Homo sapiens: one gene and its partner. The protein of the gene in region 1 purifies or fractionates together with the protein of each later gene. This does not show direct contact. Each region holds a gene or a part of one and is shown on either strand. Other genes may lie near its edges. The genes, in order: D2HGDH and SDHB.

Region 1 (3,906 bases):
TGGTGTAGGGACCAGCCCCACAGGGTCGGTGGGTCTCTCCCCATGTGCGGAGACGAGAGAGTACAGAAATAAAGACACAAGACAGAGATAAAAGAAAAGGCAGCTGGGCCTGGGGGACCACTACCATTAAGTTGCGGAGACCGGTAGTGGCCCCGAATGCCAGGCTGCACTGATATTTATTGGATACAAGACAAAGGGTCAGGATAAGGAGAGTGAGCCATCTCCAATGATAGGTAAGGTCATGTGGGTCACGTGTCCACTGGACAGGGGCCCTTCCCTGCCTGGCAGCCGAGGCAGAGAGAGAGAGGAGACAGAGAGACAGCTTACGCCATTATTTCTGCTTATTAGAGACTTTTAGTACTTTCACTAATTTTGCTACTGCTATCTAGAAGGCAGAGCCAGGTGTACAGGATGGAACATGAAGGCGGACTAGGAGCGTGACCACTGAAGCACAGCATCACGGGGAGACGGTTAGGCCTCCGGATAACTGCGGGCGAGCCTGACTGATGTCAGGTCCTCCACAAGAGGTGGAGGAGTACAGTCGTCTCTAAACTCCCCCGGGGAAAGGGAGACTCCCTTTTCCGGTCTGCTAAGTAGCGGGTGGTGTTTCTTGACACTTTTCGCTACCGCTAGACCACGGTCCGCTAGGTAACGGGTGTCTTCCCAGACGCTGGCGTCACCGCTAGACCAAGGAGCCCTCTGGTGGCCCTGTCTGGGCATAACAGAAGGCTCGCACTCTTCTGGTCACTCCTCACTATGTCCCCTCAGCTCCTATCTCTGTATGGCCTGGTTTTTCCTAGGTTATGATTGTAGAGCGAGGATTATTATAATATTGGAATAAAGAGTAATTGCTACCAACTAATGATTAATGATATTCATATATAATCATATCTAAGATCTATATCTGGTATAACTATTCTTATTTTATTATACTGGAACAGCTCGTGTCTTCGGTCTCTTGCCTCGGCACCTGGGTGGCTTGCCGCCCACAGTTGGTATCGAACTCCTGACCTCAGGTGATCCACCTGCCTCAGCCTCCCAAAGTGCTGGTATTATGGGCGTGAGCCACCGTGCCTGGTCAGAAAAATCAGTTATTTTAGGGGATGGTATGGGTGGTAATCTTTATGGGTTTTGAATCATTCCTAATCCCAGGGGTCCAAGATGCCACTGGCCTGCTAGTCAAAGGGAGGGCGTGTGGAGGTCAGGTGGTAAGGGGGTCCACAGACCTCATCTGTGGTCGTCTTTCCAGTTCCTGAATGTGTAATTGCAACAGTTACCCTTGACAATGGGCAAACTCCCACACTCATCTGCAGAGCAAGGGCCAGCCAGGTAGGAAGGGCCAGGTGGATGTCTCCTTTCCAGGGTTGTATGAATGATTCACCTGGGAAGAAGGTGAGTGGCCTCTGGGGATGTGGTTAAGGAGGACAGGAATGACTCCTTGCAACTGCTGCTCCAGAGCCTCATCACCAGGACAAATCCAGCTCGCCGGTTTTCTGTGTGACTACCAGGACCCATCTGCTGTCACGGGCGTAGCCTCCACCTCTTGCACAGCTCCGCAGTCCTGCCTCGGGCCAAGTGTGGTCTCCTGCTCTCTGCCCTCATCTGCTCAGAGATTGGCATCCTCTGCACCCGCTAGGGTTCTATGGAATTGGGTGAGCTGAAGTAACAAGTGCTTTGGGAGGCCGACGCGGGCGGATCGCTTGAGTCCAGGAGTTCGAGACCAGCCTGGGCAGCACATGAGACCTCATCTCTACAAAAATACAACAACAACAAAAAATTAGCCGGGTGTGGTGGTGCACGCCCGTAGTCCCAGCTACTTGGGTGGCCGAGGTGGGAGGATGGTTTGAGCTCGGGAGGCAGAGGTTGCAGTGAGCTGAGATCAACCCCAGAACTCCAGCCTGGGCAACAGAGCTAGACCCTGTCTCAAAAAAACACAAAACAAGTGCTGGCGATGCCTCAGGCAGGGGATCCCAGGCCGGGAGGCTCCTCGGGACAGCAGTTACTGCGTCAGGAGGGCAGGAGCTCCCCAGGTGTGCAAAGGGTTTGAGGGCACGGAGGGCTGAACAGGCAGAAGGGACAGGGAGGCAAGAAAACACCTGCAGGAGGCAGCTGCCCCCTAAGCTAAGGCTGGGGACCCAGGAGGGGTGGTCCGTGCAGGAGCTGGGGAGGCCGCTGGGGAAAGGGGCGCCCCCTGGGCTCGGCCTCGGAGGAGCGGGCCGGCCCCCAGGTCCCTCGGCCGAGCCCACGTCCCGGGCCTCGTTCTGGAGAACCCTCCAGCTGCTGCTTGGGCGTCTTGGGCTGCGCTCAGCCTAGTCCCTTCTCTACCTGGAGGGATGCGCCCGACAGCCGGCGCGCCGGAGGCCCTCAGGAAACGCAGGACGAGGCGGTGGCCGTCGAGCCTCCGGTGCCAGTCGGGGCGGGGCTTGGACGGCGGGGCGGGGACTGTAGGCGCGCAGGGCTGGGCCTGGAGGGCAGGCGGGGCGGGGCCCGTTAGGCGCGCGGGGCGGGGCTTCGGCCGCTGGGCGGAGCCGTCAATGCGCAGGCGCGGCGTCGCCCCGCCCACTCCGGCTCGGCGGCTCTGGGCCTGCGGCGGGCGCTGCGGGTTGGAGCTCGGGACGTGATCGTGGGTGCGTGCGCGCGGCCGCGCGGAGCGCTGGGCTGAGGGTCCCGGTCTGCGGTTCAGCCGCGGGTCGGGGTGGCGGGGCGCGATCTCGGGCGCCGTCAGCCAGTCGGTGCCTGTGGGGGGAGGGGGACGGCGCTGCAGCTCGTCACGTGACCGCGTGGAACACGCGCGCGCGTCCGCGGGATCCCCTCGGGGGGCGAGCTCGGAGGAACGGGGTCCTGGGCAAGGTCCCGGCGAGGCCGCCCCGAGCCTGCGCGTCGCTAAGTCCAGGCCTGCTGCGTGGGGCTTCGCGCGCTCGCGGGGTTGCGGCCCGGGCAGGGGGAGGGCCCGGGTGCTCGGAGCCTTCCCTTCGCTGCCCTCCTGCCCCCTCCCTGCTTCTGCAAGCGTGTTTCAATTTGTACAACGTGCATAAAACATGAAATTACCCTTGGCCACTTCCAGGCGCGCAGCCAGCGGCTCCCTGCCCTTCCCCTCCGGGCCCTGAGTACCGGCCCCCCACCAAGGAGGAGCCCGAGGTCTCCGTCCCGGCGGCGATGCTGCCCCGTCGGCCTCTGGCGTGGCCCGCGTGGCTGTTGCGGGGTGCTCCGGGAGCCGCGGGTTCTTGGGGTCGGCCGGTTGGCCCCCTGGCCCGCAGAGGCTGCTGCTCCGCCCCGGGGACCCCCGAGGTGCCGCTGACCCGGGAGCGCTACCCCGTGCGGCGCTTGCCGTTCTCCACGGTGTCTAAGCAGGACCTGGCCGCCTTTGAGCGCATCGTGCCCGGCGGGGTCGTCACGGACCCGGAAGCGCTGCAGGCTCCCAACGTGGACTGGTTGCGGACGCTGCGAGGTGGGTGAGGCTTGGGAAGCTGCGGCGTTTCCGCGTCCCTGCTCCGCTGCGCCTTCCCGTGGAGGCTTCAAAGCGGGCTGAGAACAACCTGGATGGGGGTGCCAGCCCCTGGCTGCGCTGAGAGGGGCGTGTGCACCGCCACAGGCTGCTGGAATGAATGACCACGAACGAGTCGCTTAGAACAACCCAAGTTTTGTTGTTGTTGTTGTTTTGTTTTTTCTTTTTTTTAAGACGGAGTCTCACTCTGTCGCCAGGCTGGAGTGCAGTCACGGAGTTTCACTCTGTCGCCAGGCCGGAGTGCAGTGGCGCGACGTCGGCTCACTGCCACCTCTGCCTCCCGGGTTCAAGCGATTTGCCTGCCTCAGCCTCCCTAGTAGCTGCGACTACAGGCGCCCGCCACCACGTTCCGCTAATTTTTGTATTTTTAGTAGAGACAGGGTTTCACCATGTTGGCCAGG
Region 2 (3,906 bases), on another chromosome or scaffold:
TCCACCACTAGAGAGTAAATTCAATGAGCAGTGACCACCTGGCTTGCTCATTCCCTGCAGCATCCCAGCACTTGGTGCCTGCCACATAGTAGCCACTCCATTCGTATTTATGAATGAATGAATGAACGAACAAAAGAATGGCACCTTTGCCAGCCACCCTTGAAATCACCTCAGCTCATTCACCAACTGCCCAGTTTGTTTGGGACTCTCAGTGCAGAAACCTGGGCAGCCTCGGGCAAGCTGCACGGTATGCGACAGAAAGGGCTGACTCAAGCCAGTAAGCGTCAGAGATGAATAATAAGACTGACAAATTCTTAGGGAGGCTAGGTGTGGTGGCTCACGCCTGTAATCCCAGCACTTTGGGAAGTTGGAGCAGGATGATTGCTTGAGCCCAGCCTGGGCAACATAGCCAGACTCCATCTCTACAAATAATTTTTTAAAAAAATTATCCGGGTGGCCGGGCGCGGTGGCTCATGCCTGTAATTCCAGTACTTTGGGAGGCCGAGGTGGGTGGCTCACGAGGTCAGGAGTTCAAGACCAGCCTGGCCAAGATGGTGAAACCCCATCTCTACTAAAAACACAAAAAAATTAGCCGGGCATGATGGCGGACGCCTATAATCCCAGCTACTCGGGAGGCTGAGGCAGGGAATTGCTTGAACCCGGGAGGCGGAGGTTGCAGTCAGCCGAGATCGCGCCACTGCACTCCAGCCTGGGAGACAGAGCGATACTCCATCTCAAAAAAAAGAAAAAAAAAAAAACTACCCGGGTATGGTGGCTCACACGCCTGTAGTCCCAGCTACTCTGGAGGTGGGAGGATCGCTTGAGCCTGGGAAGTCGAGGCTGCAGTGAGCCAAGACTGCACACCGGCCTGGGCAACAGAGTGAGACCCTGTCTGAAAAAAAAAAAAAAAATTGGCCGGGCGCAGTGGCTCATGCCTGTAATTCCAGCACTTTGGGAGGCCAAGGTGGGCGGATCACGAGGTCAGGAGTTCAAGACCAGTCTGGCCAAGATGATGAAACCCCGTCTCTACTAAAAATACAAAAAATTAGCCGGGTGTGATGGTGTGCGCCTGTAATCCCAGCTACTCGGGAGGCTGAGGCAGGAGAATCGCGTGAACCCGGGAGGCGGAGGTTGCAGTGAGCCAAGATCGCGCCATTGCACTCCAGCCCGGGAAACAGTGCGAGACTCCATCTCAAACAAACAAACAAAAATTCCAGGAATAAAGAGGTTGAAATCGGGGCAGGGACCCGGATAGGATGGCTCCGCCCCATCTAAGTCTTAGCCCCACCCCCTGAAAGTCGCCCTGCCTCTCAGACTCCTCCCCTTTCTGAGAAGGTCACGGGGGAAGCCAAATGGGCATGCGCCGCTACTGCGCTATTGCGCACGCTCGCTGTGCTTGCCCCGCCTTCCCTCCGCCCACCCGGGAAACCGGAAGCCGCCTCCCACTTGGTTGCTCGTACGCGGCTAGTGGGTCCTCAGTGGATGTAGGCTGGGCGCCGCGATGTTCGACGGGACACCGGCGGAGAGCGACCTCGGGGTTAAGGGGTGGGGCTGACGTCAGGAGCCAAGATGGCGGCGGTGGTCGCCCTCTCCTTGAGGCGCCGGTTGCCGGCCACAACCCTTGGCGGAGCCTGCCTGCAGGTGAGTCCTGGAGCCTCAGAGAGGGAAAAGTCAGGAAAGCCACAGAGACTGCCTGGAGCTGATGGGGCTGCGGAGAGACTGAGGAAGCATAGGGCAAGGCCTCAGGGAGATGGAGGACCTCCTCCCCCTGGTGCAGTGCTTTGGTTTGGCTTCGAGCATCCCTGTCAAGTTATCTTTCTGCGCCTCGCAGCAGCTTGTGAGTTAGGGCACGGGCAATTTTTTACAGCTAAGGGTGCGGGGGGGGGGGACGTTCAGAAAGGGGACTTGAATTGCTCAAGGTCACATGGCAAGCGAATGACTGCTGGAACCAGAATTTGAATCCAGACATTGGAGTTCCAAGCCCTTTTTCTGCCACCAAACTATCGCCTCTGTAGAAAAGGGAGACCTGCGGGGTGTGAAGGATGGGAATTGGGAAGCGAGGTAATTCCTCAAGGGTGCGAGGTTGAGGACCGGGATGGGTGAGGAAAGGACATGTGAATTGTTGGGGACAGGGCAGGGGAAGGGAGAGATGGAGGGAAATGCACCCAGCCCCCTACCTCGAAGGATCCCGGAGGTGGGTGGTGGGGGTTGCAGGAAAGACTGGGTTCCTTAAAGCAGTGTCACCACAGTTTCACTAGTATCCTCTCAGTGTTTCTGACTCTAAAGGTCATATAATAATACGGACCTCATAGAGTTGACATGGAATGACAGGTAGAGGGCTTGGCGCTGTTCTTGTTTATTACTATGCCGTGTGCAGTAACAGATTTTCCCACGCCCCTTGTATGGCCAAGAAACAACACATTTCTGACCTGCCTTCTAAGTGGGAACATTTAGAAGGGGAAGGGAAATTGCTTTTGTATACATAAGGGACTAAGGATTTGCAAATCCTTTCTAAGTCTGTTCCTCTTCTGGGATTCTCAACAACCCCTTTAAGGTGGGCAAGCAAGAATCCTTACCCTCCTTTTTGGAGCTTTGAAAACTTGAGGCCCCCAGAAAGAAAATTTTTGGCTTGCTCAAAATATCACATTCCCAAGAAGCAGACCTGAGGCAGTTTTTTAACATGGTACCAGAAAAACTCCTTAGCATAGATCTTGGGACATGGTTGGTGTCCAAGAAATTTTAGTTCCTCTTCCTCTCTTGCACTTAAATGAGGACATCTTTCATCTTAAGTGCCTGCTATGGCTGCATAACACAGTACATATTGCCCATGTTCCAATCCTGGTTCTATCCAGCATGCTGTGTGTGAACTTGGATCCACTCTGTCTGCATCAGCCTTTCTGAAAAGGGGAGATAGAGGAAGAAGACAGCCTACCAGAGCCTCAAGCTGACATCCTCTCAGTATTAAATTGATGATTGATAATGAGCTTGTTTACCTGTTCCTTTTATAGTTGCTGAGCAAACAATTAAATTGTGAGAGCCCCACTAACGAGAGAGTTCCAAGCCCCTCTTCTAAGAATGCATTGTAGAAAAGGCTAATTTCATAGGTCATTTTTGTAATTCCAGGCAAGGTCTTTGCAGGGCCTCCTGAGGGCAACAGAAAATAGAAGAGCCCCAAGGCCTCCCCTTCCTTGTGGGAATGTACATGTATACCCACAAAAGCCACCTCAAAAGAATTCAGTAATGAGCTTGGTGTGTTACCTGTGGGTAACATTCAGGTTCAGGTTCTGAATTCTTTTTATGCTTATAGTCTGACCACTGAACCACAATTCTGCCTGTAAGTATTTGACTGTAGTATATTAACTATTGTTTGTGTTGCCTTATTTCTTCATCTGGACTATGAACTCCTTTAGGACAAGAACTACCTACTTAAAAGTGTGTATCTTGCCAGGTGCAGTGGCTCATGCCTGTAATTCCAGCACTTTGGGAGGCCAAGGTGGGTGGATCACCTGAGGTCAGGAGTTCAAGACCAGCCCGGCCAACATGGTGAAACCCCGTCTCTACTAAAAAAATAAAAAAAAAATTAGCTGGGCGTGGTGGTGGGCGCCTATAATCCTAGCTACACAGGAGGCTGAGGCAGGAGAATTGCTTGAACCTGGGAGGTGGAGGGTGCAGTGAGCTGAAATCGCACCATTGCACTCCATCCTGGGCGACAAGAGCGAAACTCAGTCTCAAAAAAAAAAAAAAAATTTAAAAAATGTGCATCTTGTTCCTTAGGCTGGCAGGGCTAGGATACCTATTTACAAATCAGAATAATACAAAGACTGATAAGGTTGCCAATCTTGTAGAGCAAAAATTTTTTTCTGGGCTATGCTAGAAACTTGACCCCCCCTCCCCCGGGTTATCTTA

Evidence for each region.
Region 2: the proteins of D2HGDH (region 1) and SDHB purify together in Homo sapiens (affinity purification with mass spectrometry; 2 studies listed by BioGRID and IntAct, with this or other methods). This does not show direct contact.

What each region holds. Positions count from the first base shown.
Region 1 is NC_000002.12:241,732,069-241,735,974, forward strand, and holds the start of D2HGDH (D-2-hydroxyglutarate dehydrogenase, mitochondrial isoform 1 precursor), read left to right. Parts: upstream 1-2,561; 5' UTR 2,562-2,627; intron 2,628-3,064; 5' UTR 3,065-3,156; coding exon 3,157-3,448; intron 3,449-3,906.
Region 2 is NC_000001.11:17,051,683-17,055,588, reverse strand, and holds the start of SDHB (succinate dehydrogenase [ubiquinone] iron-sulfur subunit, mitochondrial isoform 1 precursor), read left to right. Parts: upstream 1-1,556; 5' UTR 1,557-1,569; coding exon 1,570-1,641; intron 1,642-3,906. UniProt on the Homo sapiens protein: Iron-sulfur protein (IP) subunit of the succinate dehydrogenase complex (mitochondrial respiratory chain complex II), responsible for transferring electrons from succinate to ubiquinone (coenzyme Q).